Regions from separate parts of the Homo sapiens genome. Here region 1 is linked to region 2. Evidence: fine-mapped expression QTL. A gene starts in region 2. The other region holds a variant in brackets. All regions are shown on one strand. Distances are between the middles of the regions. Region 1 has its middle 16 kb from the start of GRAMD1C. Region 2 holds the start of ATP6V1A (ATPase H+ transporting V1 subunit A).

What was found.
Region 1: its variant is fine-mapped to the expression of ATP6V1A in whole blood (INTERVAL, PIP above 0.99).

The regions. Positions count from the first base shown.
Region 1 is chr3:113,816,466-113,828,899 of GRCh38, reverse strand. It overlaps a transcript of GRAMD1C not described here. Among named protein-coding and RNA genes, the nearest start is that of GRAMD1C, 16 kb to the left of the region's middle. The variant G/C (reference allele first, on the strand shown) is at 5,597.
Region 2 is chr3:113,741,732-113,754,165 of GRCh38, reverse strand. ATP6V1A (ATPase H+ transporting V1 subunit A) reads right to left here and starts at 7,131. Exons shown (of 15, transcript NM_001690.4): 1 at 7,053-7,131. It overlaps NAA50 (N-alpha-acetyltransferase 50, NatE catalytic subunit), which reads left to right and starts at 7,917. Exons shown (of 5, transcript NM_025146.4): 1 at 7,917-8,224. The coding sequence starts at 8,217. RefSeq lists enhancers at 7,174-7,543, 6,865-7,600, 7,601-8,336, 8,584-8,733, 8,337-9,073 and a silencer at 7,894-8,013.

The DNA of each region.
Region 1 (12,434 bases), 75 kb before region 2:
TGAAACTGAGATTGTGGACAAATTGCAGTTATAATGATAAGTTCTATGATATGAGCATGAGAGTGGGTGGCTGACAGGAGTGGTGGTTCAGATTGTTGGGGCAGAGGACAAGGCACTAAGAAACCAGGAATTGAAAGTATAACCTTAGTGGCTATTGAAATCACCAAGTGCAGAAAGAGTAGGGTAGAAGAAAGCGACATGAGCAAGGAGCAAAAATCTTCAATGAAAAAGGGAACATGGATTGTGAGTTTATAGATGACTCCAATAAGAAAAGGCAACTGGTGGCATAGTGTTCTGACATGAAATTCAAAGATAGAGTGTTAGGGAAGAGTGAAGGAAAAGAGTCTGGAAGTAATAGGAAAAAAGAAGACAATCACTTTTTCTTGGGCCCATTGGTGCTCCAGCTACTATAGTTGCATGACAAATCACCCAAAACCTTAGTGGCTGAAAACAATAATCATTCATTATTTCATGGTTTCTGTGGGTCAGGAACCTGGAGCAGCTCAGCTCCTCAGTTCTAGCTCATGGGCTTTCAGAGGTTGCCCTTAATCAAGTGGATATCCAGTCATCAGAAGACCTGATAGTGGCTGGAGGATCCACTTCTATGGTGTCTCACTTACATGGCCGGGCACCTGGTACTGGCTATTGGTTTGGGACCTCAATTCCTCTCCATATGGACATCTTCACAGAGCTGCTTCAGTCCTCATTGCATGGCAGTGCCTTTCCTCAGAGCAGGTAATCCAGGATACCAAGGTGAGGACTACAGTGCCGTTTATGACCTAACCTTGGAAGTTATAGACTATCATTTACACCGCATTCTATTGGGGTCAGTCAGCTCTGATTCACTGAGGGAGGTGACTCCACAGGGCATGAATGATAGAGGCCAGGATCAATGGAGGCCTTATTGATTGGAGGCCAATGGAGGCCAGGATCAAAGAAGGCCAGATCAATGGGAAGTTACAAGTGATATGATGGTGTGGGAGAGGAAACAGACACCACTTGAGAGGGCTTCAGGGAAAGCCGTTTCCTCTCAAGTTTCAGGGGAAAACCAAGTATCAGTGCAAGCTTGTCCAACCCGTGGCCCACAGGCCACATGCGTCCTAGGACAGCTTTGAATGCAGCCCAACACAAATTCGTAAACTTTCTTAAAATATTATGAGAGTTTTTTGCCATCAGCTGTCATTAGTATTAGTGTATTTTATTTTATTTTATTTTAAGATGGAGTCTCGCTCTGTCACCCAGGCTGGAGTGCAGTGGTGCGATCTTGGCTCACTGCAACCTCTGCCTCCCGGGTTCAAGCAATTCTCCTGCCTCAGCCTCCTGAGTAGCTGGGACTACAGGTGCATGCCACCACGCCCGGCTAATTTTTTGTATTTTAGTAGAGGCGGGGTTTCACCGTGTTGCCCAGGCTGGTCTCAAACTCCTGAGCTCAGGCAATCCGCCTGCCTCGGCCTCCCAAAGTGCTGGGATTACAGGCATGAGCCACTGTGCCCGGCCTAGTGTTAGTGTATTTTATATGTGGTCTGAGACAATCCTTCTTCCAATGCAGCCCAGTGAAGCCAAAAGATTGGACACCCTTGAGTTAGAACAAGATGAAGAAAGATTTTTAGAGAATTTTCAGAGAAAACTCAAAGAACTTAGGTTATAGAAGATTTTGTTGGCTGGGTGCGGTGGCTCACGCCTGTAATCCCAGCACTTTGGGGGGCCGAGGCAGGCAGATTGCCTGAGCTCAGGAGTTCACAACCAGCCTGGGCGACATGGTGTTGAAACCCCTCCTCTACTAAAATACAAAAAATTAGCCGGGCGTGGTGGCATGCACCTGTAGTCCCAGCTATTCGGGAGGCTGAGGCAGGAGAATGGCATGAACCCAGGAGGCCGAGCTTGCAGTGAGCCGAGATAGTGCCACTGCACTCCGGCCTGGGTGAAAGAGCAAGACTCCATCTCAAAAAAAAAAAAAAGATTTTGTTCATGTCTGATCCTGAATTCCACAACGCACTAGGGAGGGAGTTTTGGAGTTAAGGGCAGGGCTGGTGGGGAAGAAATGAGTGCTGAGGAAATAGATAGGGTGCTCAGAAGCATGCAGCAGTCCTAGGGTCACCTCTTTATTTTATCCCAAGGAGGCCCAGAGGTGGGCTACCGATGGTATGCCACTTTTTGCCCCTTCACTAAGTAGAGTGTTCCTGAAGTACAGCTCTGTAACTCACATTTCAATATTAGAAAGAGCTTGAAGGAGTTTACAAACTTCACTCTTTCAAATTTGTTAAATGTTCAGTATGACTAGTTTTAGTATAGATCCTTGGGAAATGTCATTGTTAATTTTTATCACTTTTTTCTAGTTTTGCTAACCCATAAATAGTGAGTTAACATATCTTTATAGACCTAATGAAGTGGGTCATGCCTGTAATCCTAGCTTTTGGGAGGCTCAGATGGAAGGATTGCTTGAGGCCAGGAGTTCAAGACCAGCCTGGGCATCACAGCAATCCATCCCTAGGAAAATTTTTAAAATGTGTGTGTGTGAGTGTGTGTGTGTGTGTGTGTGTGTGTGTGTGTGTGTGTGTGTACACATATGTATCTAACTTTGTTCCTTCCTGAAACCCACCCAAATTGCAATAAAAGGAGTTGTGGACAGACAGAACAGGAGAGGAAGCAAGAGCAAGAAACTTGTAAGCTGAAAGGCAGGGGAATGAATTGCAACTGAATTATAAAACTCACTCTCTCTGACCATATTTTTGCCAGACATCTAGTGTCTGGTCCAGGTGCTCAAAGTCTGGTGAGTCCTAGGCTTTCCAGGACTGCCTGTAGGGCTCCTGCCCACTGACTTTCCAAAATGACCTCTAGGACAACCAAGGACCAAGCTGATTTACACCTCAGAATGCCCAAAAAACATGGGAAGACAACACCAAAATACCTGTGACACTGATGATTAAATAAGGAAAGAAGTAGAATTGTAGCTAAAATAAGGACTCAGGTCAAAGCTGCTTGCTTTATTTTTATTTTTTTATTTTTGAGATGGGGTCTCACTCTGTCGCCCAGGCTGGGTTGCAGTGGCACCATCTTGACTCACTGCAGCTTCCACCTCCTGGGTTCAAGCAAGTCTCCTACCTCAGCCTCCCGAGTAGCTGGGATTTACAGGGGCGCGCCACCATGCCCGCATTTTTAGTAGAGATGGGTTTTCGCCATGTTGGCCAGGCTGATCTCAAACTCCTGACCTTAGGTGATCTGCCCATCTCAGCCTCCCAAAGTGCTGGGATTACAGGCATGAGCCACCACTCTGGCCAGGTCAAAGCTGTTTGAAAAGCAGTTATATCCCTAGGTCATCTCCTTGTCTCCATGCTGCTAGGCAATTTTAATTTTCAGATGTATATGTCTCAAAAAATATGCCACCCACCTTACTTAAGAAACAAGCTACTGGAGAAACAGCTCATTAAGAAACCAGTAAAGATAAAATGTGGGCGATGAAAAACAAGCACTAGGATAGAGATGGCATTCCCCAAGTGGTAGATCCCAGAATGACAGCTGCAGACTAGACATAGAAGGCAAGTAGTCCAGATTGGAGCCATGCAACTCAAGAGACAAGCTGATTGAGTGCTGTCATCACCAAGATCCCTATTGCCATTTATCTTCTTTTTAGCTGAAGACAGAATTTCCCTATGAGTCATGTTCAGAATCTTTTGTGTACTTTGCTTGTGAAGTTCCTATTCTCCCTCCATGCTCTGCTGCTTCACCCCACAGATTTCTGGTTTGACTTACTCCTGAGAACGAGAGGTAGCTATGATGGGTTTAGAAGCAGAAAACACAGAACAGTCCATTTTCTCTGACCATATTTTTGCCAAACATCCAGAATCTGGTCCAGGTGCTCAAAGTCTGCTTGAGTCCTAGGCTTTCCAGGATTCCTGAAGGCTCCTGCTCACTGACTTCCCTAAAAAAAGACTGTTTATTAACTCTCCGGGAACCTAACGCCAGATTATGATCAGTTTCTTTTCTCCTGAAAGGCTTTAAAAATCTGATAGTGACACCAGTCACCCTTTGCTTACACAGGAACATAGGTGACATATCTATAAATTAAAACAAGGCACTGATTAACACAAAAATCAGAGTAATGTTTATCTTTGGGGAAGGAAGAGAGTTGCAATTGGTGAGGGCTTCTATGTTACTCCAATATTCTATTTCTTTCTCTTTTTTTTTTGGAGATGAAGTCTTGCTCTGTCTCCCAGGCTGGAGTGCAATGGCGCATTCTTGGCTCACTGCAATCTTTGCCTCCGGGGTTTAAGCAATTCTCCTGCCTCAGCCTCCCAAGTAGCTGGGATTACAGGCATGCGCCACCATGCCTGGCTAATTTTTAAATTTTTGGTAGAGACAGGGTTTCACCATGTTGGCCATGCTGGTCTCAAACTCTTGACCTCAGGTGATCCACCCACCTTGGTCTCCCAAAGTGCTGGGATTACAGGCGTGAGCCACCATGCTCGGCCCCATATTCTATTTCTTAATCTGAGTGATGGGTACATACATATGTATGTTTTTTTTAATTGTCCATGTTAATACTATATATTTTTCTGTAAATAAACATTTACTTAAAAAATAAATATTTTTAAGTAAATAAACAATGAAAGTAATTATGTTTTTATTTAAATGTTGCTTATTGAGTATTGGATTGACAAACATTTTTGTTTTGATTTGAATAGTTTTTGTAGGATAAATATATACAGACACATATATATATATATATCTTAAAAGGAAAAAACCAATATAGAAAAACAGGCTTAGGCTGGGCACAGTGGCTCATGCCTGTAATCCCAACACTTTGAGAGGCCGAGGTGGGAGGATCATCTGAGGTCAGGAATTGGAGACCAGCCTGGCCAATGTGGCGAAACCCCGTCACTACAAAAAATACAAAAATTAGCTGGGCATGGTGGCGTGTAATCACAGCTACTCTGGAAGCTGAGGCAGGAGAATCACTTGAACTTGGGAGGCTGGAGGCAGAGGTTGCAGTGAGCCGAGATAGTGTCACTGCACCCCAGCCTTGGCAACAGAGCGAGACTGCATCTCAAACAAACAAACAAACAAACAAAGCGGGCTTAAGTTAAGTTGGGTAGAGAAAGGGATAAAATTTCCAGGGACTATAGAATGAGATCCACTGAACAGAACAAAGTTTAAGGCTGGTAAAATAAGGATATGTGCAAAATAGAAGCCAGTGTTAGAGTGAAAAGAGAAAAGTACAAACTGAGAGAGTTCCTAGGTCATTTGCTAAGGATATTAGATTTCCAGATTCACATTTCATTAAACTATAAATTATTTAAATACAACTTGTGTCAATTTCTGAAATGAGATGCCTTATATTATCTAATGTTGCACTATAACCTATGGTGTTAAATAAATTAACCTACCTAAATTTGACCTGCCATCTCTCTCATTCCTCTCCTTTCTGCCTCAATGATATCCACCAACCTCTCAATTTTAGCATTGCTATTTTAAGTAAAAATGCTTTGCCTTTACAAATAAATAAGCAAATGTTTTCCAATAAACTATTGATAGCGTAATTAAATTTAGAAATTAATGGCCGGGTGCGGTGGCTCGCGCCTGTAATCCCAGCACTTTG[G/C]GGGGCCAAGGCGGGCGGATCACGAGGTTAGGAGATCGAGACCAATCTGGCTAACACGGTGAAACCCCGTCTCTACTAAAAATACAAAAAATTAGCCTGGCGTGTTGGCGGGACCTGTAGTCCCAGCTACTCGGGAGGCTGAGGCAGGAGAATGACATGAACCCGGGAGGCAGAGCTTGCAGTGAGCCGAGATCGCATCACTGCACTCCAGCCTGGGCAACAGAGCAAGACTCCATCTCAAAAAAAAAGAAATTACCAAACATGTTGAGACAATGTTTTCCTTTACATAATACTCTTCCTGAAAATTAGGCATTTTTAGAAATGACATTCTCTATTTAATTGAACCTTATAGGCCACAGGAGTATTATTTAATAAAAATCTCTAGCGAGATTATTAGCAATTTAGCAGTTATAATTCATGGATAAGTGTTAATTCAGCCAACTAAACATAAAAATAGAAATTGTGTTCATTGTGATTAGAAACCCATGCTAAAAATATATAAAATATAAAATGTGTAGTATTTTTTGAGTAGCTACGTTTGTTGGAAGCAGAGGCAAGAATATAAATATTCATGAGTATCTTTCCTTGGATCACACAATGGTGCATTTAAACGTAAGTATAGGCCAGGTGCATTGGCTCACACCTGTAATCCCAGCACTTTGGGAGGCCAAGGCAGGAGGATTATTTGAGTCCAGGAGTTCAAGACCAGCCTGGGAAACCTGGCAAAACCCTGTCTCTACAAAAATACAAAAATTAGCTGGGTGTGGTGGTACGTGCCTGTGGTCCCAGCTACTCAGGAGGTTGAGGTGGGAAGATTGATCATTTGAGCCTGAAAGGTCAAGGCTGCAGTGAGCCATCATCGTGTCACTGCACCCCAGCCTGAGCAACAGAGTAAGGCCTTGTCCAAAAAAAAAAAAGGGGTATCTAGGCAAAATAAAAATGATACTAGGCTGGACATGGTGGCTCATGCCTGTAATCCCAACACTTTGGAAGGCCAAGGTAGGAGGATTGCTTGAGATTGACAGTTGAGACCAGCCTGGGCAAAATAGTGAGCTCTCATCTCTCCAAAAAAATCTTTTAATTAACTGGGTGTGGCAAGTCCCAGCTACTCAGGAGGCTGAAGTGGGAGAATTGCTTGAGCCTGAGGTCCGAGGCTACAGTAAGCCATGATCACACCACTGCACTCCAGCCTAGGTGACAGAGCCAGACTTTGTCTCAAAAAAAAAAAAAAAAAAAAAAGAAAAATTTGGTAGTGTGACTGAGAAGCCTGTAATCCTAGCACTTTGGGAGGCCGAGGAGGGAGGATTGATTGAGCTCAGGAGTTTGAAACCAGCCTGGGCAACATAGTTAGACCTTGTCTCTACAAAAAAATTAAAAATTAGCCTGGCATGGTCGCGTGTGCCTGTAGTCCCAGCTACTCAGGAGGTTAAGGCATGAGGATCACTAGATCCTGGGAAGTCAAGGCTGCAGTAAGCTATGACCATGCCATTGCACTCCAGCCTAAGCAAGACCCTATCTCAAAAATAAAATAAAATAAAAATAAGTACAACCTTTGGAAAACAGCATCTATATGTGAATCAAATTCTAGAATAGAAGAAAGACATTGGAGAAAAAGATGTGGGCCCTCCTGGGCACCATAACAAGACCCTGTCTTTGAAAAAAAAAATTTTTTTTTTAATTAGCAAGAGGTGGTGGTGCATGCCTGAAGTCCCAGCTACTCGGGAGACTGAAGTGGGAGGATTGCTTGGGCCCAGAGCAAGCCCATATCACAAAAGAGAGAGAGAGAGAGAAAGAAAGGAAGGAAGGGAGGAAGGAAGGAAGGAACGAAGGAAGGAGCTGACTTGAATTCTTAATTCTCTCAAAATGAAGGCTGACACATTGAAGAAGCTTTCTATAAAATGATGCAAAAATGTTCAAAATGGGTAGGTATCTTAATGAAAAAATAATACATTCTCTCTCTCTGTCTTTTTTTTTTTTTTTTGGAATACAATGTTTCTTTTTCCTTTTTTTCTTTCTTTTTTTTTTGAGATAGAGTCTCGCTCTGTTGCCCAGGCTGGAGTGCAGTGGCTTGATCTCGCTCACTGCAAGCTCCGCCTCCCGGGTTCACGCCATTCTCTTGCCTCAGCCTCCTGAGTAGCTGGGACTACAGGCGCCCGCCACCATGCCTGGCTAATTTTTTGTAGTTTTAATAGAGACAAGGTTTCACTGTGTTAGCCAGGATGGTGTCGATCTCCTGACCTTGTGATCCACCCGCCTCAGCCTCCCAAAGTGCTGGGATTGCAGGCGTGAGCCACCGTGCCTGGCTTTTTTTTTTCTTTCGAGATGGAGCCTCGTTCTGTCACCCAGGCTGGAGTGCAATGGCACAATCTTGGCTCACTGCAGCCTTCACCTCCCAAGTTCAAGCAAGTCTCCTGCCTCAGCCACCCAAGTAGATGAGACTACAGGTGCCCACCACCACACCCAGCTGATTTTTGTATTTTTTGTAGATATGGGGTTTCACCATGTTGGTCCGGTTGGTTTCCAACTCCTGATCTCAAGTGATCCACCTGTCTCAGCCTCCCAAAGTGTTGGGAGTACAGGCATGAGCCACTGCACCTGGCCCAAAATAATACATTCTTTTTTTTTTTTTTTTTCCTGGAGACAGGGTGTCACCCAAGCTGGAGTGCAGTGGCACCATCTTGGTTCACTGCAACCTCTGTCTCCCAGGTTCAAGCGATTCTCCTGCCTCAGCCTCCCGAATAGCTGGGATTACAGGCGTCTGCCACCATACCCGGCTAATTTTTGTATTTTTAGTAGAAATGGGGTTTTACCATGTTGGCCAGACTGGTCTCAAACTCCTGACCTCACATGACCCATCCGCCTCGACCTCCCAAAGTCCTGGGATTACAGGCGTGAGCCACAGCTCATGGCCTAATACATTCTTAATATATCACTTGAAGGCCTTCTTTTAGTGAGAACTTTCCGGAACAAGACAACCCTATGATTCTGTTCAATATAACTGTAAAAATCACAGTAGTTATTTCTGCTCAGTGAGAATTTTGTGGAAGAGGAAATGTCTTAATTTCAGTTCTCTAGGAACAGAGCCTGAGAATGAGATTCCTGTGAAAGTGGCTTATTGAGGACGTGCTGCTCAGGTGAAACTCATAAGGGAGTGAGGAAAGTAGCAGAGAGAAGGAGAAATAGAAGATGCTGATGTGGGTGCAACTGAAGTTTCTCCTCAGCCTGGTCCCACAGGGAGCGCTGGAGCATCACAGACTGGTGTCACCTTGAGGCAAGAGGACTGGTCTTTGATACCCTCATATTGATTTGGGTGCAGTTGGGTGTGTGGGTGGGGAAAACAGAGGGCTTCAGCTTCCAGGCCTAGCCAGATGTGGCAGCTGCTGTTAGTTGAGGGCAAGTTTCAGTACAAATATGCTGCTGCGAATTCTTATCAGCCAATACTCCATCAGAATATGTGAACTGGCCTGGCAAAGGGAATATGTGCATTTCACCAGCAGGGGCTATTACAAGTAATATTTCTTTTCTTTTTTTTGAGACAGAGCCTCGCTGGCCAGGCATGGTGACAGGCGCCTTTAGTCCCAGCTACTTGGGGGACTGAGGTGGGAGGATCACTTGAGCCTTGACCCAGGAGGTCAAGGCTGCAGTGAACCAAGATGGCACCACTGCACTCCAGCCTGGGTGACAAAGTGAGACCCTGCCTCAAAAAGAAAAAACAAAAAACAAGCAAAACCAAAAACTTATTTGGCAGTAGTTTAATCAAAGTTAATGCCAACAGGTTATGATTCAAATATCAAGAAATATGTTCTATTAATTTTGAAGTACTTACTTCCTGAAGAGGTTTGCATTTGATGATGAATTTCTATATAATACAAGGCTAACATTTACCTTGAATCCTTCTAAAGGTATTCAGTAGGCACTTGTATTTTTTTTAATTAATTTTTTTTTTTTTTTTTTGAGCCAGAGTCTCGCTCTGTCACCCAGGCTGGAGTGCAGTGGCACAATCTCGGCTCACTGCAAACTCTGCTTCCCAGGCTCAAGTGATCCTCCTGCCTCAACCTCCCAAGTAGCTAGAATTACAAGCATATGCCACCATGCATGGCTAATTTTTGTATTTTTAGTAGAGATGGGGTTTCACCATGTTGACCAGGCTGGTGTTGAACTCCTGACCTCGTGATCTCCCATCACAGCCTCCCAAAGTGCTGGGGATTATAGGCATGAGCCACCATGCTCGGCCTAAAACTTTTTTTTAATAGAGACAGGGTCTCACTATATTGCCCAGGCTGGTCTTGAACTCCTGGACTCAAGCAATCCTTCCACCCCTGCCTCCCAAAGTGTTAGGCTTACAGGCATGAGCCACTGTGCCTGGCCAGTAAGCACTTATTTTAACTGATACTAAAACAGTCAGTCCGATTTTTGACTTACAAGCAGGGTTGCTGAAATTTCTGTCATTTGAAAACCACCCTCATTTTTGCCATATCTTTTTACTTCTGTGATTTTATGTACTTAATAGTGTTCTTTAAAAATGAATCACTTTTAAAAATATTGAATAGTTTGGCTGCCTCCTTAAGCAAATCCTTGAAATCATGGATTTAAACTACTAAATGTTGCCTCTATACATTAAAATGCATACTATTCATCTGCCTCTTTCCTAAAACCATCTCACAGCACTGAGGTACACTGTGCAGGTTTCCCTTTGCGGAAGGCTTGCTGCCCAGCTGCCAGGAGTATGGTCAGCATACAGCCTCCAGCTATCAGCTCCTTCTTACTCTACAGTTGCTGAAAACCACCCAATCTGAGATGACATTCTCACAGGTATCTTGAATCTGGGAACCAAGAGAGGCACAGGTGTAAAGGCCAGGCCATTTTAGGCTGATGCATGTCAACTCTGGCAAACTCCAGAGGTTCCGCCTAGGAGTGGACAAGTCTGTCAGGCCTGCTTTGTACTTTACTTATTTTCTGCCCAACCCTGCTTTTGCTCCCTTCCTTTCCAAGTTGTTTATTGCTAGTTAACAACTTGCATCCCAAGCTCCACCTAGATGAGCTCTGGAAGTTCATCTGCTTCCAGAAAACTCAACCTGTAATTCCATGCTTGGGGAAATACTGTCATAAATCATATAAGGGTAAATGTCAAAAGGGCTTTATAAAGACTTTAAAATAAAACATGCAATTTAAAAATTAAGGCCATAAATATGATTTTATGTGCCAGGTGCAGTGGCTCGCGCCTGTAATCCCAGCACTTTGGGAGGCCAAGGCAGGCAGGTCACCTGAGGTCGGGAGCTCGAGACCAGCCTGACCAACATGGAGAAACCCCATCTCTACTAAAAAATACAAAATTAGCCAGACATGGTGGTACATGCCTGTAATCCCAGCTACTCGGGAGGCTGAGGCAGGAGAATTGCTTCAACCCAGGAGGCAGAGGTTGCGGTGAGCTGAGATCGCGCCATTGCACTCCAGCCTGGGCAACAAGAGCGAAACTCCATCTCAAAAAATAAAAATAAAAAATAATAATAAAGGGGCATGATCATGTCTCACTGTGGCCTTGACCTCCTGAGTTTAAGTGATCCTCCCACCTCAGCCTCCCAAGTAGCTGGGACTACAGCCATGTGCCACCATGCCCAGCTAATTTTTAATTTTTTTGTAGAGAGGAGGTCTTACTATGTACGTGGCTCAGGCTGATCTTGAACTTCTGGGATCAAGCAATCCACCTGCCTTGGCCTCCCATAGTGCTGGGATTACAGATGTGAGCCACTGTGCATAGCCAACAAATGCTATTTTTTAAAATGGAACTAAATTATACTCCTTTATAATTATGTTCACAAGCTAAGCCTGTGTATAACAACATCAAAATATGTTGCAGAATTTTGATTCCTTTTTAAAATCTCCTATGTATAGAGAAATGGACAGAAAAAAACCTGTTGGTTCATTCAGTAAAATACCTGAAACTACTGTAATAGAATCCTGTTTAAAATCCATAGGCATTACAGTTATTATTGCTAAAATTTCATGATTTAGGAAAACTTTGAGTGCCAGGCTATTCTGAGTCTAAATGAGTCAGAATACATGTGAATCAGCAGAGCACAGTTTAAGGTAAGTACCAAGGAACATCTTAAAGGATAAATGGTTCTGCAACATCTTATAATGCTGAGATTATGATAAAACTAGTCAACATTTGGGAGAATGCTTATTTAAATCTAAGTCTCTCATGTTACTTTTTTTTTTTTTTTTTGAGATGGAGTCTCGCTCTGTCACTCAGGCTGGAGTGCAGTGGCGCAATCTCGGTTCACTGCAACGTTTGCCTCCTGGGGTTCAAGCAATTCTCCTGCCTCCGCTTCCCGAGTAGCTGGGATTACAGGCACGTGCCACCACGCCCAGCTAATTTTTGTAGTTTTAGTAGAGACGGGGTTTCCCAATGTTAGCCAGGATGGTCTCGATCTCTTGACCCTGTGATCCGCCCATCTTGGCCTCCTAAAGTGCTGGGGTTACAGGCGTGAGCCACTGCGCCCGGCCTCATGTTATTTTTCATAGCTAAGCATGGAATAAAGATAGTTGTTTCCCAAAACTTGCCCCATGGTAAGAATCACTTGGAATGCTTGTTAAATCTATTCCCCTACCCTTTCCCTAGACCAGAGATTCCAATTCAGGTTGGTCTGGGGCAGGGCCTGGGAATCCGTATTAACACAATTCCATGTTTCTTACATTCAGACAAGTTTGGGAAACATCTAATTAAGATGTATAATTATTTAAAACATTAAACCTGTTTCTAACAGCCATCCATTGCTGCTTTAGGGGCTGTGATATGTATTCACGGACACCTGAGTACGTATTTGTATGCAACTGG
Region 2 (12,434 bases):
GTAAATCATCTTAGTGCCCATTGTTTCCCATAATCCATCATATACACAGACATGTACAAACATGTAGTTTTATATAAATATGTTACTATGGATATTCTGTCTCTTTCCTTTTCTGCTTATTTCCTCTTTCCAACGGTGACAACCAGGTAAAAATATACAAAACTCATGGTGTTTTTCAACTGGTTTTATAAAAAATGAGTTATCATTACAAATGTTTCTCTGTACTTTGTATTTTTTTTTCTTAAGATACATGATGGCCTGGGCAATAAGGTGAAACCCCGTCTCTACCAAATATACAAAAAATTAGCCAGGTGTGGTGGTGCACACCTGTAGCCCCAGCTACTCTGGAGGCTGAGGCGGGAGGATAGCTTAAACCTAAGAGGAGGAAGTTGCAGTGAGCCAAGACAGCACCAGTACACTCCAATCTGGGTAACAGAGCAAGATCCTGTCTCAGGAAAAAAAAAAAAAAAAAGACACATGATAGAAATCCTTTCAGAATGTACTTGGAAATCCTTTCTAATCACCAGTAGATTTAACTCCTACCATTTAATCACTTCACAACATTCCATAAAATGCCTCGGCCATAATTTACATAACAATACCCCTATTAACAGGCATTCCCTTTGTTTCCACGTTTTTTGCCACTACTAACATTGAAAATTGAAACACTGTTGCAGCTAACACTCCTGTAAACTCTTACTGGTGCTTTTATTTCTAAGGAAAAGATTACATGGAGTTAGACTGATGGGTGGAAAATACATGTATTCTCAGTATTAACTGATGTTGCTTGATTGTTTACTAGGAAAAACTCTAACACTTCACATCTCCGCTAGCATTTTATGAGATAATCCTTCTCCACATATCCCTGCTAGCAGTAGGTTTACCACTTAATTTTTGCTTGTCAGAGAAATAATATTTCATTGTTAGTATATTGATTACTAGTAAGGTTACACATCCTTTACTGTTTGTTGAATGTTTGGATTTCTCTTCTGTGAACTTCTGGTGACATGTTTTATCCATATTTTTACTGGGTGAACTTTTTCTTAATTGGAAAGAGTTCTTTCAATGGTTAACTCATCTGTTACATATATCTCAAGCCTTTTTTTCCGCCTGATTTTGTCTTTGGTCCTTTATTTTTGCCACTAAAGAATCCTTCGTTTCCATGCAGTCTCATGTGTCTATCCATACTTTTATGACTTTTAGGTTTCCTATCTTGGTTTAAAAAACTACATCTGGATTGTTTGTATAAAGGAAATTTAGGAGATTAATATCTTAAATATTTTATTGTTTACATTTAAGCCTCTAATCCATCTGAAATCAGTTTTTGCATCTGTTGCAATGTATTGGATCAATTATATTTTCTTCTAGATGAGCAAGTTGTATCAGTTAACATTTATGATATATATGTGCCCTTTTTCACCATTGGATTGAATTATCCCTTTGAAATGTGGTAAATTATCTTATATACTGAGATTTACTCTGCTTTTTAAAATTCTGCTGCACTTATATACTTAAAATTAAAAATATATTTACACACCTATAAAATTAAATAACTTACTCAGCTACCTGGATGAGACAAAACATTTTCACTTAAGATATCCAAGTAGTTAAGATGAAAGAATTATTTAGGTGCCTTAATTTTCCATATCAAATTAAGAAATATTTTGCAATGCCTACTGACATTATGAATTCAAATATACAGAAGGTATAGTAATAAATTTTAATTTTTTCTTTAATGCATCAATCTAGAGATAATTACTTATTTTGATGCATTTCCTTACAACTTTTTCCATATGTATATACTATTATTATTATACATATGCTCTTTTTTCAATTTTAAAGGTATTTTCCAATTCAATTAGTCTTCTCTATTGTACCTTTAAACATTAAAAAAATTAAACTAAGAACTAAAAACTTATAAAGTCTGGTTGCTTTTCATTGCTCAAGCACATCTGAAACTCTTCTATATCATATCATATACCACCCATTTTATTTTCAGTGAAATAAGCTTAATTATTTTTCAGAAAAGAAACAAAATGTGGCATGTTGCAGATAAAATTTTTTTAAAGGCTTACCAAGAGAACAGTTTCAACAGATAGCATTAAGATCCAAAACTGAAATTTTTGTTGTTAGTCATAATAATACCAAAAATAATAGTGATTTTTAAAACCTTAAGATATAAGAAAGTGTTTCCTTCTAAAATTTAAATCTGAAAATACTTATGATATACCATTAATTTTTAAAAACAGCTAATCACAGTTGTAAATTTATTAACTAGAGCTAACTACAAAGAAATATACAGAAAGAGGAGTTTCAAATGTAAATAAATCATTATTCTAAAGATCACTTCAGTAGTTTCAGGTAAAAATAAATATGTTACTACGAAGATACACAACCACTTCAGCTGTCTTTATATATACATACACACACATTGCGTACTTTATATACTACAAATATTTACTCTATATATAGTATATACATAATATGTATATACTAAATATAAATGAATACACTTATAAAAACCAAAGTCGCTATCATTTCACCATAGGGAAAAAAGAGAATAGCAAAACTAATATTCTCTTCAGAAATTATATGGAAAACATTTTTATTGCTCACATTTCATTTATTTAAAATAAAGTTACTTAGTATAAAGAATAAATTCATTCCTAAATCAATAAATCCATTTGTTATAATAGACAATCAACATTAAGGAAAAGTCAATAAACTTAATAAAATCTTTCCTTAAGACAAATGAGTAATTTTTTTTTTCAGGAATAAAGTGATTCATAAACTCATGATAGCTATACTTACTGTTTAATTTGCTGATATTTTCCATTGCAAAACTACTAACCCTTGTGAATCATGAATTTAAGAAGGGAAGAATTTTACTCTAGTTTATGTCTCCATTATGTTCTCTACATTTCTTTGTCTATTTCATATAAGGATAAAAATAAGATATAAAAACACTTAATTTTTTTAAAAAGACAAAATTTTTAAGCTTATAAGCATTAACTCAAAAGTCCCTGCTCTACAATCTGTACAATTTTAATATACTTCTATAATCCATTGCAGGAATAAAAACTTCAAAATTGAAGAACTGCCTCCTTAAATTTATTCCATACATTAATGATTACAAGCTTTGGAAAATCTTTATATAGAAAATATTAAGACACTGCAGTTGCCCAAATAAGGGACTTTATCTTGATATTTTTCAGATAAAATTAATAAATCTGTTTTAGAATCTTTGCTACAAGTACACTTTTCTTGTTCCCCCATTTTTTGGGTAATAGCTTCTTTTCAAATTCTACTCTCTTCTTCATGCCCCAAACCTGCTGCTCACAGGGACATCAGTCAATTCTGTGGGTTGTCTTAAGTCTTTAGAAATTCAGTATATAAAATCAAAGTAGTTATCAGTAAAATTAATTAAAAATTTTTTTTACAAAATATGTTCTAGGCATTTTACATTCATGATCTAACTTAATAGCACCATCTATAGATTTAAACGTGAGAAAACTTAACCTTACTTAAGTACACTGTCCAAAGTCACACAGTTATTAAGTGGTAGGGCCAGAACTTCAACTAGGTCTCTATGACTGGGAAATCAATTCATGTAAAGTCTGAGCTACACTGCTTTACCATTTTACACACCACTTAGTTTTTTTTGTTTTTGTTTTTGTTTTTTTTGAGATGGAGTCTCACTCTGTTGCCCAGGCTGGAGCGCAGTGGTGTGATCTTGGCTCACTGCAACCTCCACCTGTCGGGTTCAAGTGATTCTCCTGCCTCAGCCTCCTGAGTAGCTGGCACTACAGGCGCGTGCCGCCATGCCTGGCTAATTTTTTTAATTTTTTTAAGTAAAGACAGGGTTTCACCGTGTTAGCCAGGATGGTCTCGATCTCCTGACGTTGTGATCTGCCCGCCTTGGCCTCCCAAAGCACTGGGATTACAGACACCACTTAGTTTTTAAGATATTTTCACATAGATTACCTAGGGTTTATGTCATAGGAAGGTTCCTAAGTATCAAACCTGAACCCCTCCCCAGCATTACGTAAAAGGACATATAACTAAAGTGGCAGAGCTGAATGAAGATCCTCTGACTTTTAGTCTAGTGCTAGTCCACTTATAGATCACGCAGAGCCACTTTTTCATTTAGTACGATTCATTCCTCTTCCCTTCTCTCCCATATTTTGATGATAACCATACTTATTAGTAAACAAACATGCTGTGAAAATAAGTTGGTCTCAGCATTAATAAAGTCCATCTGAGGTTTTTATCTATTGTATTGACCATGAATTTGGAAGGTTATTACCAGTTTATATTTAAAAGCTAACATTTAGTGCACAACTTTAGGAAGAGCTATGATCTGCAAAAATTAAAGTGGTTTAATTTCTTTGTCTAATTGCCCAACATTCATTCAATAAATAATTTATTGAGTACCTATCAGGTACTTCAGTATTCTGGTGCTGAAGACACAATAGTATTATAGTTCACAGTCCTGAGAGCTTTATGATTTGCTGAGGAAGAGCCCAGGGAACAGGAATTAAATACAATGCTAGAAGTGCAAGTAGAAGAATAGAAAAGATGATGATGATGATTAGTAGTAGTCTATAGGACTGAGTGGCTACCTCTGCCCATGGGGAAGAAAGCATTCTTAGTGGTGGCAAAAATCTATAAAGGCACTGAAAACAAGAACTCAGGAAAAGAAAACCAGAAGTGCCAAGGGCCCTAAAATAAAACCAAACCCTTATGCTTTATTTAATAGTGGACTATAGCACAATTCCCTAATAAATGTTAAGATTTCTACATGTAACACTCATAAACTGATAAGGCTAGTCTCAGAAATGTTTTCCAGGCTTCCAATCGTGTGTGTGTGTGTGTGTGTGTGTGTGTGTGTGTGTGTGTGTGATCTGTGTATAATGTCAAAGCTTTTTTTCACATTTAACCTTACTAGCAATGTAATCACCAATTCCCACTACTAATCTACATTTCATCAGTGGTCTAAGTTATTGCTTTCACGAGTTCCCTAAAACTGGGGGAATTGTGAAGTAAAACTGCAGACTCATCCAACCACTTTCATACTGACATTTTCCCCTCTAGTAGTCAATGCTTCTAGCTGGTTTTCTCTTTCACATTTTGGTCTCAGCCAGACAGGACTAGTTAGGACTTCCAGACCACATAAGGAATTCTCCTTACGTGGTGCAATGTCACCTGGTCACTGAAGTAACACTTCCTTTTTTTCTTCCCCTCTCCTCTAGAGATCAAGGAACCTTATTATGGAGAAAATTAATGGATAAAACTACATATATATATCTACAGCAGGCATGATGACATAAATATATCAATACATTAGTCTATTGTCCAGTATGGGTCGTAAGTACGAAATGCTAAAATGGTAAATCCACAAGAGATAGTAGTAATCTTCATTACTTGGGGAAAGCAACATCTCCGAGGTTATGTTTTCTACTAAGGAGCATCAATAAGCTAGGTTATGTATTTTGCACTTACTATAAAAATACTTTGTTAAACTGCTGCTATTGTAGAATTTTAACTTTTTATTCTCCTTAACAAAATAAGACCGTTTATTGTATAGAATTTGGAAGACACAGAAAAACAAAAATAAATCAGTCACATCCACCAAAGATGATTCCATCTTCCTCATTTTCCAGCAGTCTTCTTTAATTACCTTAGTTAGAAAACTACAAGATTTAACTGAGCATATAATTTTTCATATTAAGAAAGGTGTAATTTAAATTTTAAAAATCAAATTTGTAATATTCGTAAGACCTTCAATTGAAAAGCAGCATGGAATTTTCTGAGTTTGCAGTATAAATAAAAGAGTTTAACCACAAACTGAAAAACATTCTTCCCTAAAGCACATTGTTTGGGATCAAAACATTGGTAATAATACATTATGGACGGAATGGGAGTACTTGGGTTGGACAACACCTGTATTTTCAATTGGACAACAATTTCTGTATTTTCACAAAATACTATTCATCAAAATCTGAAGAGGGCACCGGGAGTTTTACAAATGGGGAAAGCTAAAGAGGGATACAAATGCTACTTAACCTAAATTTACCACAAAGCCGATCAAGGAATAGATTGGGAGTGCCAATTCAGTAGTATTTTAGGGGAAAATGACAAAAAGGGAAGGATTGACGGCAGAAAACATGTGCAGACAGCAACATCTCGACTTGATTCTACCTTTAAGCATATGGCCAAATCAATTTGGTTTAACTATTTCCAACCCAATCAGTTTCTTATTTCGGTTTCAGGGAACCCTACTCACTCTTCCCTAAACCAGCCTGGGCCTCCTGCACACCACAACACCACAATACCATCTTTCAACGCCTCCTCATTCAATCGAGACTGTCGCATTACTAACACCTCCTGTTTTGAAGACAGTATTCCTTCAACTGTCCTCTCTGCAGAGAAGAAAAAGTAAAAGCCCTTCTTTTACTTTTCTAGTCCCATCCGAAGCACGTGAACATCTACGGAACCTTCCCTGCAGGTATGTCAGATAAAATCCTTAGAATCACTGAGAAAGCACATTCGGAGGGAAGCTTCACAGTGACTCTGCAGTGAGGGCCGTATCAGTGACAGTCCCTCCCAAGCCTGTCTCACCGGAGACGCCTCTGCCTCCAGGGTTTTTGCTACCTCCCCGCTCCTCAGCCCTGAGCTGAGGGTAAGGACAGTGAGGACCTTTGCCAAAGAATGGGCTTTAAGGAATGGGACCTAATGTCTACTGCAGACCCTGTGAAATGGCTGAAACAATCTGCTACCCGAAGCCCCAAAGGCTCTGAGTAGGGAACCATAATGGCCGCACTCACTTCCAACCCTGGGAAAGGTGGACATCTGAATCCCCAAGTAGCGGGAACGACCACACTTGGGGGAGCGGGGGTTAAGGAGAAATGAGCTCCTTGCCGGTGCAGGGTGACAGCGGGGAGGAAGCCTCAGGCAGAAAAGTCGCCGTTCACACTCTCCCTTCTCTCCTTCCTCTGCCTCCTTCCACCCCCTCTATCCCCACCACTCGCCAGTTACCGGTCGCCGCTCACCTGCTGGGGCGCGAGGTGCAGAGACTGTACCGACCGAGGACCCAGAGGCTGTCACCACGGAGGGGAAGTCCTCAGCTGCACAGGTTGGGGGGGGGGGGGGGGGCGGGCCCAACCAGTCACATGACGTCGAGCTCCGCCCTGCCTCCTCCATCCCAGCGCTCTACATCTCGGGGGGCCTGAATTTTTACGGATCCCTTGAATATTAATTTTCTTGGATTAAAGAAATAAAAGATAAATTTTCACAAAGAGTATGTTATAAAGTACAATGTGGAAAATGTGGACAGCAAGAGTTAAAGCGCATTGCTAAGGAAGTGACGTTCACGCCACAATCGAGGGACAGGAAATGGCGGTGGCGTTCCGTCCCTCTGGAGTCCGCCGGTAAAATTCCAGGCTCTGAGGTTTGGGCCAATCACGTGATCTTAAAACTTGAGGCGTGCTGGAGGGTAGCCAATCTATCTGGCCGATTGTTAACTACGTTTGTTTTAAAACACCTAACTTAAACTTGAGCTTTCCACAGATTTCTTTACATTTAGAAGAACTAACTTTATAAAACCCTACTAGGAGGCAACAGCGTTTGAAGGTCACTCTGGAGACCACAAACTGGGAAGAACGGGGCTGAGAAAAACTATCTTGCGGATATGGGACAAGAGAGGGAGGGGTGGAAAAATCTGGATTTTACCGCCAGGGCCTACCGAGCCAGCCCCACAAGCAGTGTCGTAAGCGGGTGGGAGGGAGGAGCATGACCCCAGAAGGCCCAGTCCAGGAGAAAGATGGAGGTTCCGGAGTGGAGGGGGCAGGGTGCGCGGAGGCGAGCAGTGCGGCTGCGCGTGAGGCGGCGGCGCGCCGGCGCGCGAGGGGCGGGGTGAAAGGTCACAGCGCGGCAGCGGGTCTGGCTGGCGGCAGCGGCGGGAGGGAGCCGAGAGACCCGAGTGCACGTGTGGAGAAGCGGCGGCACAAGCGCGGCGGCGGGAGACACTCCCGCCCCCACCAGACTCAAGCCCTCACTCGACTCTCGCGGCCTTCGTTGCTCGCACAGCTCCCTGCCCAGGCTAGGAGGCCGGCTTGCGGGGTTGAGTGGCCCGAGCTAAGGGTGCGGAGACCTAAGGGCGGCGACTACGACGGCGTTGATATCGGTGGTAACGACGGCCTCAGCAGGCGGGGAAGATGAAAGGGTGAGGAAGGGCAGCCGGGCAGGGCCCGGCCGGTGGGGTAGAAGGGTCCGGGCCCATGTAGAGGGGGAGAGCCGCAAAGGCGAGGAGAGATTCAGGGCGAAGACGGGCGGAGGGAGATTTCTCTGCTTCTCAGTTCCCTCGGCTCCCGGAGGGGGCGGAGGCGAGGCTCGGGCTGTTGGCGGGCTGAAGGGCCAGCGGAGGCAAGACCCGGGGGGCTTCAGGGTTTCGGTTCGGAGACGAGTGTGGGTTGTTGAGTGGGGAGAAGCGACCGAGTGGGGCAACATGGAAAGGCTATTGTGAAGCGCCCGGGGCCTCCTTCCCGGGAGCGGACCGCTGAGCCACGCCGGCCCGCAGCTCCAGGTGGAGTGGTTTGGTTGTCTTCCACCTCCAGACTCAACTCTGGAACTGCGGTGTTTGACACCTTTCAGTTTAATTCACGCTTGGGAGCTGTGCAGAACCTTCTGGAGGAAGAAGAAATTGGAATAAAGAGCACGGGGATGAGTATTAAGAGCTAGTGACTCAACTAGATTTGGGTTGGGTCACAGCGAGTGGAGGAGGGGGAGAGAGCGCGATCACTGTAGACTTGGGGTGCCAACATATTTAAGGAAGTATAGGGTGGATCAGTAGGTGGAGCTGTTGCTTCAGTAGTTCACTATTGCCCCTGAGTGCTGAGGCGGTCCTGGGTAGTTCTACCACGCTGCTCCTTTCAGGTGATTGGCAAAGTTAATGTTCGGTCTTTCACCGTTTGCCTCTTACGTAAAATTAGGAATTATTTTGGATCGACTGGTTAAGTTTTTATGAAATGTCTCCTTACCATTAAGTTGTATAGTTTTAATGTATTAATTACGTAACATTTTTCCGAAGCATTGTCTCAAGCCGTTTTGGAGCTTGTCTTTACCCTCAAAGAGATGAAGCTCATAAACGTTAAAAAGCTCTCTGCGATGCCATAGTTTGTTGTTGTAAGTCGATTAAGAAGTCGTAACTATGTTTTAAGTTAACGAAGTCATTCCAACTATTCAATAGCACTTTTGAGGATGAAATAAAAGTCACTTTCAACGTAATCTCATACTGCCCCAAACAAGGACCTAAATATTACCTCTGTGTATCGGTATTTGAGGTTCCTGAAGAGATTCCAAGAAAGTTTAATTTGGTCTTAGGTCTGTAACATGTTTCCTTACTTTAATTTTCCTTTAAATACTGGATATTTATTCTAATGTTGAATTGTATGTTTTGTACTAATAATCTTTAAAGTTTAAGAACCATGAACTATTCACAGTACCTGCATTGTTTCACATCAAGTTGTAAAGAGTTCCAGTTAGGGAAATATAATTGACGGGTATAGGAAGTATTTGCTCCACTTGAATCATGATCTTGGAAGTTTGGCTATTTCAGATACAATCCAACATATTTGGAGAATGTTGTTTTTCTGCTATACTGCACTCCTTTTGTTTTGTTCTTTTCATTTTTTTTTTTTTAATGAGGCAGGGTCTGGCTCTGTTGCCCAGGCTGGAGTGCAGTGGCGCTATCTCGGCCCACTGCAACCTTTGCCTCCCCAGCTCAAGCAATCCTCCCGCCTCAGCCTTCCGAGTCGGTGGGACCTCAGGCGCGCACCACCACGCCTTGCTAATTTTTTGTATATTTTGTAGAGACGGGGGTCTGACTATGTTGGCCAGGCTGGTCTCAAACTCCTGAGCTCAAGCGATCCACCCACCTCTGCCTCCCAAAGTGCTGGGATTACAGGTGTGAGCCACTGAACGCGGCATATACTGCACTTCTTGAACATGGTTGCTGACTCTTACTCATTTTTGTACTCATTGTCAGGCACTCAGTACTTGTTTGTCATGTTCTGTTAAGTAAGAAAAATGAGGCTGAAGAGTTCCCAGTGTTGAAATTGCCATGGATTTACGAAGGGGTTGCCAGGAAATTATTCTGTATGTTTAGATCCAAAATCTTCAATCTAGTTCAGTCTCCATAGGCTGTGATGTTCTTTCTGATACATAACTTGGCGATAGAAATGAAGCTGAACAGTCATATTATTCACAATCTACCTTGAATTAATATATTCATGGAGCAATTATCTCTGTTTAAAATGGGTATTTACATGTAACCTGATGAAGGCAGATCCCTAGAAATAACTGGCCGAATTTAGAGGAAACTTACAACTATTGAATCTGTACCTTTATGCCAGTAACTATGCCAGTGAAGTTCCTATTACTTCTTATGATTGGGAGCTTAGAATTGTGTTCTTTACTGTAAACCTTTAAGATGATTTCACAGGAATAATCCCTTTAACTTAACAAATGAACTAACTCCCAGATGAGATGAAACTTTTTAATTTTTTTTGCTTCTAAGTCTGTATTTAAGACACTCAACAAATGAGTTGTGTGAATCTTACTTGTGCTTGTTCGGATACTGAACCTACAACAGTATAGGTTTAAAATAAGTTAAGCGCCTTGAGTTCCAAAACTTGTACCACAGTGCACAGTGTGGTCGATTTTAAAGTCCTGACTCTTAATTTGGAATGGCCTGTAAAAACGAAACAGTGGTCCTGGTTATGTGGCTTTTGTATGAAATTTTATTTGCTAAGTATTCTATTGTATATTGAGGTAAGTAAACAGTAAATTGAAATATCTAAAATTGGAAACTGCGGAAGTCCCAACACGAAGCCAGTCAAATATTTAAAATTGTACACTGTTGCCTATGTTGCCTATCATATTGAAACTTAAAACTTAGCTGGTTTTTCTTCATATTTTTACCATGAGTATTTTTATTAGTAGTAGCAGTAGGACTTTCCATTGTATTGGCATGTCTTTCCTCCATAGAAGATAAATTTCCGGTTATTAACTACTGAATGTAATTTATATGCACATGTAGAAGTTTGAGATATACTAGGAAATGTTGCTTACTTTTGAGGTTGGCTGTTTTTATGAACCAGGGACATTGTAGTTTGAATTTGTGGGTGATATTTTTATCTGTTCTTCTCTAGGGAAGGCGATTTCAAGCAAGAAGGTATGCCACAGATAACCATGACTGAGGTGGCAATGTAATTAGGCAGTGTAATGGAAAGTATAATAAAACCAAATCATTTAGCCTTCAATTGTAGTAAAGAGGTGCAAATTAGTTCTAATAAAAAATGTCTTTAACAAAATGTGAATACGTGACTAAGATGGGAAAGTAGGTAGCAGTAATATAAATATGGAACAATGTTGACTACTAATTGGAATAGTAAAGGGAGCCATTTTACCAAATAAAATTAAAATGTAAGATTCTGCAGTCAGAAACAAAACTTTAAAAACTCCGAACAGTGGTTACCTCTGACAGCATATGGACTGGGAAGGGGCAAAAGGAATGCTTTTTGCATCTCAGCATAGTGAGACCTTGTCTCTACAAACAATAAAGCAGCCAGGAGAATCACCTGAACCTGGCAGGTGGAGGTTGTAGTGAGCTGAGATCGTGCCACTGCATTCCTGCCTGGGCGACAGAGTGAGACTCTGTCTCAAAAAAAAAAAAAAAAAAGCCAGGCATGCTGGTGCAAGTCTGTAGTTCCAGCTACTTGGGAGGCTGAGGCAGGAGGATCACTTGAGCCCAGGAGTTCAAGGCTGCAGAGAGCCATGATCTTGTCACTATATTTCAGCCTGGGCAACAGAGCGAAAACTGGTCTTAAAAAACAAAACAAAACAAAACTTTTTTTAAAGGTTTATTGCTGTTTTGTTTTTCAGCAAAACCAAAAGCTAGTCAGGCTGACGTAGCATTTGACACCTTTTATAAACCTACAGTTTATACTTCTTCCTTCTGTGAAACAATTTGTGGTTTGTTGATTGAGATAGTGAATTTTAACAAATACTTTGTAATGTGCCCTTGCTGTGTTGAGATGAATTCATATAAAATATAACCTTACACCATAAGTTTTTTTAAAAAATCAATGTACTGTTCTCTCTAATATAAAAGAAAAATAAAAGGGAAGTAATTTATAATAAAATTTATTTCAGTATTTAATGATGTGGCACAACTATGCCATAAAGCATAAGATCAAGTGTTTGCATCTATCTGTAAATAGAATCATCGTGTAATTTAGAAAGTATGTCTGCTGCCTATACAGTTGTGTGCATTGTTGACTCATGTTGTGTTGCCATTAGTGGTGTAATTTCTTCCTGAAATTGCAGACAACTCTTAGGAAAGCTCTAAACAAAGAATAATCAATACTTTCTGA